Regions from separate parts of the Homo sapiens genome. Here region 1 is linked to region 2. A link means that fine-mapping ties the variant in region 2 to the expression of a gene that starts in the linked region. Tissue or cell type: memory regulatory T cells. Region 2 holds a variant in brackets; the other region holds the start of a gene. All regions are shown on one strand. Distances are between the middles of the regions.

What was found. PIP is the estimated chance that this variant, and not a neighbour inherited with it, causes the effect.
Region 1: it holds the start of VCF1, and the variant in region 2 is the best candidate, but not a certain one, in a credible set for the expression of VCF1 in memory regulatory T cells (Schmiedel 2018, PIP 0.60).

Annotation. Positions count from the first base shown.
Region 1 is chr17:73,230,037-73,235,410 of GRCh38, reverse strand. It overlaps VCF1 (VCP nuclear cofactor family member 1), which reads left to right and starts at 3,017. Exons shown (of 4, transcript NM_001098832.2): 1 at 3,017-3,325. The coding sequence starts at 3,105. MTNAP1 (mitochondrial nucleoid associated protein 1) reads right to left here and starts at 2,978. Exons shown (of 6, transcript NM_001351264.2): 1 at 2,922-2,978; 2 at 2,086-2,191. RefSeq lists an enhancer at 3,524-4,300.
Region 2 is chr17:72,508,406-72,513,779 of GRCh38, reverse strand. All of the region lies in intron 1 of LINC00673 (long intergenic non-protein coding RNA 673), which reads left to right. Among named protein-coding and RNA genes, the nearest start is that of LINC00673, 82 kb to the left of the region's middle. RefSeq lists an enhancer at 2,810-2,939. The variant T/C (reference allele first, on the strand shown) is at 2,566.

The sequences.
Region 1 (5,374 bases), 720 kb before region 2:
TGTTGTATCTTTTAAATTCATTTGGAACAAGCTAGATGTTTGCTACTTACGGTTACAGCAAGTCAACTAGTCATTATATGAGTATAAAAAATTGTTTAAAAACCCTTAAACACGTTATTCAAGGACAGAATGGTAAAGAATAAAAAACTTAGGCCAGGAACCAAAGGTTATTTATTTATTTATTTATTTTGGAAACAGAGTCTCACTCTGTCACCCAGGCTGGAGTGCAGTGGCACAATATCTGCTCACTGCAAACTCCGCCTCCCAGGTTCAAGCAATTCTCGTCTCAGCCTCCCAAGTAGTTGGGACTACAGGGGCATGCCACCACGCCTGACTAATTTTTTGTATTTTAGTAAAGACGGGGTTTCACCGTGTCCGTGTTACCCAGACTGGTCTCGAACTCCTGAGCTCTGGCAATCCACCCACCTCAGCCCCCTAAAGTGCTGAGATTACAGGCGCGAGCTACCACGCCCACGCCCAGCCAAAGGTTACTGATTACAGCAGAGGTTTCCAAAGTGATAAATAGAATATGCACTAGGGTGTAAGAAGAAAATATTAGAATTACCACAATCAAAGAATGAGAAATGAAGCTCTACTAACATTTAGTAATATGCATATACACACACACACACACACAGATATACATAAAATGTATGCATAATGCACAAATATATACATGGCCAAGGACACAGTCCTGTTTTTCACTTATACTTTTTTTTTTTTTTTTTTGAGACAGAGTCTCACTCTGTCACCAGGCCGGAGTGCAGTGTCGGCTCACTGAAACCTCCATTTCCCAGGTTCAAGCTATTGTCCTGCCTCAGCATCCCGAGGAGCTGGGACTACAGGCATGCGCCACCACGCCAGGCTAATTTTTGTATTTTTAGTAGAGACGGGGTTTCACCATGTTGGCCAGGATGGTCTCAATCTCCTGACTTCGTGATCTGCCCGCCTTCGGCCTTCCAGTGTGCTGGGATTACAGGCGTGAGACACCACGCCTGGCCTACTTATAGTTTCTAGTACAACAGATTACTGGCAAATTAGTTTGACATCTTTGTTAAACATATACGATGTAAAAAATTAAAAAAAAAACATTTATACCATGTATATTTGTACCTGTTATTCTTTAGAGTCCAGAAAAGAAAATGTTTAATTCCAATGTTTAGTTGAAAGTTATTTCCTTTCTACATCTCTTATTCTTTCTATAAAGTTCCAGAGGGCAGGAAACATATCTATCCTGCACACAGCTGTATGTAAAAACCTAGCACTGAGCCTGGCATACAATATTTGTTCACTTAATTCTTTAGATATAAACGTTTAAATATTATTCAGTACTACAACTGATAATATCTTCTGACTACCAAAGAGATTAAAAAGGGTGACTGAAACCACTTACAAAATAGACACAATCTTCACCAATCCATTCAATAAAGCAACCAACCCACCTTATCCTGTACGAAGTCCTTCAAAACAAAACTGTTTTCTGCCAACAGATTACAGTAATCATTTTTACTTTGTTGTTGTTTGGTCTTTTTTTTTTTGAGATGGAGTCTTGCTCTATCACTCAGGCTGGAGTGCAGTGGCGCGATCTCGGCTCACAGCAACCTCAGCCTCCCAGGTTCAAACGGTTCTCCTGCCTCAGCCTCCCGCGTGGCTGGGATTACTGGGATTAAGGGCGTGCGCCACCACGCCCAGCTAATTTTAGTATTTTTAGTAGAGACGGGGTTTCACCATGTTGGCCAGGCTGGTCTTGAACTCCTGACCTCAGGTGATCCACCCGCCTCGGCCTCCCAAAGTGCTGGGACTACAGGCGTGAGCCACCGCGCCCAGCCTGCTGGGATTACAGGCGTGAGCCATCATTCTTTCTTTCTTTGGAGGTACACACTAACAGGATGAAAGCCACAGACTGTTTGTTTACAATAATACACACAAATGAAGCCAGTCCATGGACCTTCGGCTAACAACGTTAGGAAGGGCTTGACACCTGCTAGACGTTTCTGCCTCCACTCCACCTCACACTCAACCCTACTTGAAAGATCCCGGTACATTCCCACGATAACGTCTATACGTGGGTGTCTGTTTTCTTACCCGAGCTCCTCCAGGAGGATGCTAGTTTTGTGGGTGCTTCTCCCGGATCCCCATGCTTCCCCGATCACCGTTCCCGAGTGTGGCAGAATGAAACGTGAATGTCAGCCTGTGTAGGACACGATCAGACAGGTGACTTGGCAGCATGCACAGTGAGTAAACGCGGCACGATACTGAACCAAATAGAAACACAGGTTCCGGAAAGCAGAGAGTTAAGACCTCCCCAGCCTCCGGGCTCAAGGAGGACCTCAATAGTTCCACTAATCCTCACCCTCACCTCCGGCGCTCTCCAGCCGCCTTTCCCTCCTCCCGCTGCGTTACCAGCCTGCCCACCTCCCCGCACCCTTCCTTTCCCTGAAAGCTGTTCTGATTCTGCCAGCTGTTCTGATTCTGCGGAGTGGATGGGGTCGGCCCGGCAGCTCCTGGGTCAGGGACAGCCGTTCCCGCAGCCCCACCGAGGATTTCCTCCTGCGGTTCCAGGAAGACCCTCCGCCGGCCCCGGCACCCGATTCCCTACCCTCTCCGCTCAGGAGAGTCTCCCCCAGACTTAGAACGTGGGCCGCGGAAAACAAACCCGCCCTTGCAAGCTCCCCACAGAGCACCGTCCTCACCTCGGAAGACCTGAAAGCCCAGGCGGCCCCGGCGACAAGCCCCCCAGGGAAGCCCCCCAGGCCCCTGCCCAACCCCCGGCCAAGGAACCTCGTCAGGCCGTCTGCACCACTGCCGGATAGGTCCGCCTGTTTTAAAATATGTTACACGGATTCAACTCAAATACTTGTATGATATTATTATGACATAATTGAATTTATTTGAAACCTGGCTTGACTTTTATACCGTACCCTCCGTTGGCTGTGAACAGGCGAGCGCTTCTGCCACCCCAGGGGAGGTCCTTTCTCCCAGAAGCTCCTAGTCGCTCCTCCCGCTCCGAGCCCGCCTCTTCCCGTGGGCGGGGTTACCAGTCGGTGCGGTTGGGATGGTGCCACTGCGCAGCCGCGAGAGGGCGGTACCACGGCGGCAGCGACATGGGGGGGCGCGGAGCAGACGCCGGAAGTAGTGGTGGTACGGGTCCGACTGAGGGGTACTCGCCACCGGCTGCGTCCACCCGAGCGGCTGCGAGAGCCAAGGCCCGAGGGGGTGGGCGTGGCGGCCGCCGAAACACAACCCCCTCTGTTCCCTCTCTTCGCGGAGCGGCGCCGCGTAGCTTCCATCCGCCAGCTGCCATGAGCGAGCGCCTCCGTCCCAGGTGAGAGGGAAGGGACCCCCTTTCCATTCGTCGCCTGAGGATCTGGGAGATAGAGCCGAGGGGGCGCGCGAAATGGGGGTCGGAGCAAGAGTGGACCCGGCGGGGCTCCCTGTGGGGTGCACTGCGGGCCGGGGGAGGAGGGGAGAGGGATGCGCGAGTGATCGGATGCTTGGTTCCTGTGGGTAGCTGGAAGGTGACTCTCCGGGGTCCAGGTCTCCCGCCCCTCCATCTTTTTTCCCCCCTGTCTTTTCCTATTTGGAACGAAGTGTGATCGGTCCCGGAAGAGAGACGGTGGCCCTAAAGCTTTCCTGTCCTAAATTTAGGAGGGTGGGGGGATGGGATAAACGTCTCATCTTGGAGAGGGAGCCCCCAAAGGCTTTTGTGAGGGCACCGGGCGGGGAGCTGCCGGCTCCCCAAGGTCAGAAAGAAAGGTTGGGCTTAACCCCGCAGCAGGGAAAGATTCGGTTAGACCGAAGAACTTGTGCCCTGAACGGTTGTGAACACAGAAGGGCAGATGACCAAGGCGGGTTATGGATCTTCTCTTGACTGTGGCATTAAGAACAAGCTGGATTCTAAACTGTTTGGATTGCGGGGCCGTTTGACTCCGAAGGCGGGAGGAAAGATTTTATCGCGATGCACTCGCTACCTTCCCGAGGGAGCCTGGCCTCGGGACGCGGGTCTTAAATTAGGGGTTCTGTGCTTGACATGTACTACTAGAGTCCGGACTAAGTTGGGATTTCTTAATTTTTTTCTCTCTCTTAATTTCCTCTGCAAGAATGTGTGGAGGAGAAAGTTGGGAAAGGTTACCTCAGAATGCTCTTCCTGTTACGGTCTTTCCACAAGGATCCTTCTCTGAAATAATTATTTCATGTGATTGAAGTTCTCAAAAGTATTCTGAGTTTATTTGGTCCCATAGTGAAAACCTAGGGTTCCCCAAGCTGCTGCATTGGATTATTGATTTGGGTCATGTAGCAGGTGGAGCATAAAGCCTCTCCTTGTATAGAAAAGAAGAGTGGACTAAATTTGAAATTGGGGGCCCAATTACAGACATGCCATCGGAATTAGGAGCAAGATCTTTAGATACAGTGAATCTGACCCGACTGCCATATTATTCTTTCCCAAACCCAGTTTATACTTACGATATTCTCTTGGGGTGTCTCACATATCTGAAAAAAAATCTAAATATTTCCTACAAATAAAAATTCTACTGTACATAACTAATCTGAATGCATTTATACTGGCAGTAGATTCCTTTTATCTTGTACACAAATAATCTCAACATGTTTTAAAGAAGTTATTTGATTTGGACAGGCTTTTCCTGCCAGTGTTTAATGGAGTATGATGGGCCAGCTCTGCCAGCTCTAGGATGGTCTAAGACGGTGGTTTTTCGGCTGGGTGCGGTGGCTCACGCCTGTAATCCCAGCACTTTGGGAAGTCAAGGCGGGCGGATCACCTGAGGTCAGGAGTTGGAGATCACTCTGGCCAACATGGTGAAACTCTGTCTCTACTAAAAATACAAAAAAATTAGTTGGGCCTGGTGGTGGGCACCTTCATCCCAGCTACTTGGGAGGCTAAGGCAGGAGAATCGCTTGAACCTGGAAGGCGGAGGTTGCAGTGAGCGGAGATCACTGCACTCAAGCCTGAGCAACAAGAGCGAAACTTCCATCTAAAAAAAAAAAAGGGTTTTCAGGCTCTCCCACAGTAGATTGGATAGCCGCAGAGAGGTGAGTGTGTAGTGAGGGAGTCCCTGCTTATTGATTGATTGATTGGTTGATTGATTGACTGATTGATTGACAGAGTCTCACTCTGTCGACCAGGCTGGAGTGCAGTGGCCCCATCATGCCTCACTGCAGCCTCAACCTCCCAGGCTCAGGTGATCCTCCCACGTCAGCCTCCTGAGTAGCTGGAGCACAGGTGTGAGCTACCACACCCAGCTAATCTGTGTATTTTTGGTAGAGGTGGGGTTTCACTATATTGCCCAGGCTGGTCTTGAACTCCTGGGCTCAAGGGATCCACCCGCCTCGGCATCCCAAAGTGCTGGGATTACAG
Region 2 (5,374 bases):
TTTGGGAGGCTGAGGCGGGCAGATCATGAGGTCAGGAGATCGAGACCATCCTGGCTAACATGGTGAAACCCTGTCTCTACTAAAAATACAAAAAATTAGCCAGACGTGGTGGCGGGCGCCTGTAGTCCCAGCTACTAGGGAGGCTGAGGCAGGAGAATGGCGTGAACCCGGGAGGCAGAGCTTGCAGTGAGCCGAGATTGCACCACTGCACTCCAGCCTGGGCAACAAGAGTGAGACTCCATCTCAAAAAAAAAGAAAAAAAAAATGAGGCTGAGGTGGGAGGATTGCTTGAGCCCAGGAGGTCACAGCTGCAGTGAGCCGAGATTGTGCCACTGCCTTCCAGCCTGGGAGACAGAGTGAGATCCTGTCTCAAAAAAAAAAAAATGTTGAAGATGTGAATGAATGAATGACCCCAAACTCTTATGGCTAACTTTTTTGCCACCTAGTAGACTCCAGCTGCTGCTAGGCTGGGTGTGTGTAGAATAAGGCCCTGTGAACACAGACATCCCTCTCGGGAATAAGAGCTGAGCAGTGCACTTCACGGTCCCCAGGCGGCCCACACCATCTGTTTGCTGCAGCAGGATGGCTTGGGTGGTCCATCCAGGGCCCTGCCCAGAGTCTCTTGGGGCCAAGGCTTTCCCACCCTGTCCCTCTCACTGCCCACCTCCAGGTAGGCACAGTAGGGAGGGCTGGCAGGAATGACCCAGGAGTGAAAGCAATCCTCTTGTCTTCTGGTGGGAGGATGGAGGGGCCAGGGCAAACTGTGAACCAGCCTTTGGACGGGGTACCCACCCACTTCCGTGACTCTCCTTGCCCCCCTCTGCTGGGCTCTTTAGGGAGCATCGAGCTCTCATGTTACTTTAGTGGTTGAGGCCACCCCTGGATTTCCCTCCTGAAGTGTCCCGTGTTGCAAATGGCCCTTTGTTCTTTCTTCTCTAGGGTATGGGAAATGTGGTGGCTGCCCCAGGTCTATGCAGCAGGGGAACCTGAGAGCCTCCTAAGGGAGGAGGGGCAGAGTTTTCTAGAAGCTGGTGTTCATGTAAATAACCCTGGGTGCTTCAGTGATTAGTCCCAGCTAGGAAAGTAGACAGAGAACCAACCCAATCAAGTTGTGAGAAATTGAAAGCACTCCAGCTTTCTTACAGATATTTTCTTTTTCTTTTTTTGGTCAGGGGGACGGAGTCTCGCTGTATCGCCCAGGCTGGAGTGCAGTGGCTTGATCTGGGTTCACTGCAACTTCCACCTCCCAGGTTCAAGCAATTCTCTGGCCTCAGCCTTTCAGGTAGCTGGGATTACAGGCGCATGCCACCATGCACGGTTAATTTTTGTAGTTTTAGTAGAGACAGGGATTCGCCATGTTGGCCAGGCTGGTCTTGAACTCCTGAACTCAAGTGATCTGCCTGCCCTGGCCTCCCAAAGTGCTGGGATTACAGGCGTGAGCCACTGTGCCTGGCTGATATTTTCTTTAAAATGAAATAAATATATAATTGGAGGGCATTACAGGTGATGTGAAGGTAGCAAGGCAGCTTGTGGTTTTTAAAGGAGGAGGAGTGTGGCTGTCCCTCAGTGACTCCTCTAAGTTCAATGACCTGGAGACCAAGAGAAGGGGACATTTGAGGATCTCGACCTTGTCCTTCCAGCAGGTGCTCCCAAGCCACCTCTGGGCCTGAGAATAGGCATCACATGACTCTGTTTAATCCTCCGACACAGCAAGGAGTGGCATTCTGGATCCACACTGCCTGCCTTTGAGCCCTGGCTGAAGCCTCTCTGATTCAGCCTCCTGAAGGACTTCCAGGGACTTCGCTACTTTCCCTGTCCCCTCTCACCTCCCACTATCTGCCCCCAGAGGTGTGGCTTGAGTCACCTCCTTAGGAAGTTTGTCTTTTATGTTGGATTTCTATGTAGCTCAATTACACCATGGTTATTCCTAAATGTCAGGCTTAATTTGTTGCAAGTTTTACTTGATCCCAACAGTGTGTTTTATTTACAGTAGGGAAGTCTATTCGTATAACCTCCCTCTTTTACAGTTTGTGCTTACAGAGTATGCATAACTATTCCCAATTAAAAGAAAACAAACACACACAACACTGTTGGAGTATTGCTTATAGCGCGGGGCTTTGGTAAAGCCTCACATCAGTGTGGTCCCTTTTCTCAAATTCTGCTTCATGACAAAGCCCACATACGTACACTTACACACTCCTTCAGAACGCTACAGTCTGATCTTGTAATGGCTTGGGTTTCAATTTAAGGTTGGTAGGTTGAATCACCTAAATTTTACAGATCTCCAAATAGGTCTAAAAAAGCTCCCATTCACAGAAATGTGCTTGCTTCACCCTGGAAGATACACGCGGAAATAACAGTGCTTTGGTTTTCAAGGCTTTCGTTTCTCTTTGCAGTAACTTGCTCCTCCTGTACTTAACGCAATACTCCATCAGCTAACAAGAGAAAGCGTCTCTTTTGTTTTTTTGTCTCTGCAGCTTTATTGAGGTGCAGCTGACTAATAAAAATTGTATTTATGTATTCATGGTATGCAACATGATGATTTGATATACATTGTGAAATAAG[T/C]TTTACAATCAAATTAATCACAATCAAATTAATTAGTGCATTCACCACCCCACATAATTACCGTGTGTGTGGGGTTGGGGGTAAGGACACTTAAGATCTACTCTTTTAGCAAATTTCAAGCGAGCCATGTTGTATTATTAACTATTGTCACCATGCTGTGCTTTAGATCCCCAGAACAAATTCATCTTGTAGCTGAAAGTAATCAGGTTCTATATGTGGTCCCTGGACTGAAGTCCTCTCCTCCCTGGTGGCTGGGAAACCATGTAGGACAAAGGGCATGAATGTCTTCTGGGCAGATGCTAAGTCCCTGTAACCAATTAGATTTTTCTCTTCCGTGGACTGATCCTCCTGTGGTTTCTGGGCAGAATTCAAAGTGAAATGGGTTCTACCAGCCACTCAACCAGACCACAGAGGCCCTAGGGAGGCAGCAAGCTCAGGATGGGTCCTGGGCATTGTTTTGCTTGGGGAAGTGAAACTGGCATCCTTTGCTTCAAAGGCTTCATCCCTCCTGACTTGAAGGTGTGGCCTTGACCAGAGTGACAAGATTGCAAACACTGGGGTGAAGAAAATGTATCAGGTTGCAGCCTTTTTCCTTCCAGAATATTCTCAACTTCCTGTTGCTTTTTCAAATCAGTTACATTTTCAGAAGAGACTCTTAGTTTAAAGCAGTGCCCCTCTTTAAGAGGTTGTGTTGTGTATTAATTCAAGCTGAGCTTGGCATGGAAGAGCATTCCCTCTGACCAGTAGCTTGTTTTTTTTTTCTTTCTTTCTTTTTTCTTTTTTTTTTTTCTTTTTCTTTTTGCAAGCCAGAATGGCGCTGAAGAATTCCCCAGCATGGGGTAGGGCTCAATTTCTCGGAACCTTCCAAGCCGCCTTTTTTTCCCAGTTATCCTAAATATATAGCGTTTTATAGTGTTTCTAAGCATGGGGACAAAGTGTTTTGCACCAAAGAACAGGAGTCTCAAAATAAAATATGGGCTTCCTTTGGACAAGGAACCATGGCCGCAGTTAGCATGCTGGGCAGGTTCCTGGTTCAAGCTCAATTTGAACTATTTCTAGATATGCAAGCAGTTTTATAATCTCTCTCCTTCCCCCTATTCCTTTCACCATTAAAAAAAAACCAGGCTTATAACTTTGCTGACTATCAAATCCTTTGTCCTTCCTGTTACATGCGTTACCACAGGAGCCTGCTCAAAGCTTTTCCTTTAGGGAGTTTCAATAGACACTACAGAGAGATGAGAAGGAAATTAAACTCGGTGGGGGTTGCCCCTGTACCCCGAAAGTAATTCCATGATTGAAATGCCAAAAGCCCGAACATCTCTTTCGCTGTCAGACCCAGAGAGGAGAGTGAGACAAACTTGAGTTGACGAGAATGGAACTTTAATTTCTGGGTGGTTGTTCGAAATCATCAGTCTGGTTTTGGGGAACATGACTGTCTCGAAAGTCCTTTAACTCTTTCCAGTCCCATAGCTTTTTCTTTCGAGGGTAGTGGACAAGTTAGTTTACCAGGGAAGTCATTTATTGTCCAAAATGAATTTAAGTTAAAGCTACTCATTTATTGGTGGTAAGGCAAATGGGTTCAGGCTTTCTGGAGGAGAATAGCCAAATGAATGAAAAGCCTTGAATGGCATATTCTTGACATGCTATCAGTGCATTTCTAGAAATTTCTTCTGAGGACACCATTGATAAGTTTGCCCATCCTGTGTTTATGAGACAGTGAAAAATGCAAACTGTGGAAACGCCCTTCAGGAGCAGAGTATCCCCATCCATAGAGTGGAATATTAGGGAGCTATTGAAAGTGGTGCTATAGGCTGGGCACGGTGGCTCATGCCTGTAATCCCAGCACTTTGGGAGGCCGAGGTGGGCGGATCACCTGAGGTCGGGAGTTCAAGACCAGCCTGATCAACATGGAGAAACCCCATCTCTACTAAAAATACAAAATTAGCCAGGCATGGTGGTGCACGCCTGTAGTCCCAGCTACTCGGGAGGCTGAGGCAGGAGAATCGCTTGAACCCAGGAGATGAAGGTTGCGGTGAGCCGAGATCACGCTGTTGCACTCCAGCCTGGGCAACAAGAGCGAAACTCCATCTCACACACACACACACACAAAAAAAAAAAAGGAAAAAAAGAAAAAAAGACGAGAGAGTGGTGCGTGATGCTATAGACTTATATTTGTTGATTAAGAAATCTGTCCATGATATATTGTTGTGTACAATCAATTTGTTTTAAAACCATATGAGTGCCTTACAATGTGATATCCTGGAACAGAAAAAGACATTGGTGGAAAAACAGGAGTACTCTGAATAAAATCTGTAGTTTAGTTAAAAGTAATGTACCAATGTTAATTGCTTAGTTTTGACAGATGTCCTGTGGTTATGTAAAATGTTCACATTAGGCAAAGCTGAGTGAAGGAACTCTTTGTACTATCTTTGTCAATTTTCTGTAAATCCAAAATGATTATAAAATAAATTTTTTTTCCAAAAGGCATATAAACACATTTAAGACTTTTGGAAGGATTTTAAACAAAAGATTAACCCTCTGAATGCTGGGATTATGGGTGATCTTAATTTTGTAGTTTTCAATGATAATTTTGTTAAAAGCCAAGAAAGCTCATTTGTTCTGTGAAAAGAAAGTAGCCTATAAGTATAATTTCGTTGTTCAGATACTAGAGCCCATCTCTCCATCACAATTCACAGTTGTTTCTGGGTTGAAGTCTGCCCTTCTGGGTACAGCCAGGCATGGAAGAGAGGCTATGATTAGAGCAGGGACTTTGGAATTGGAGAGACCTGGGTTTGAATCCATCACTTGC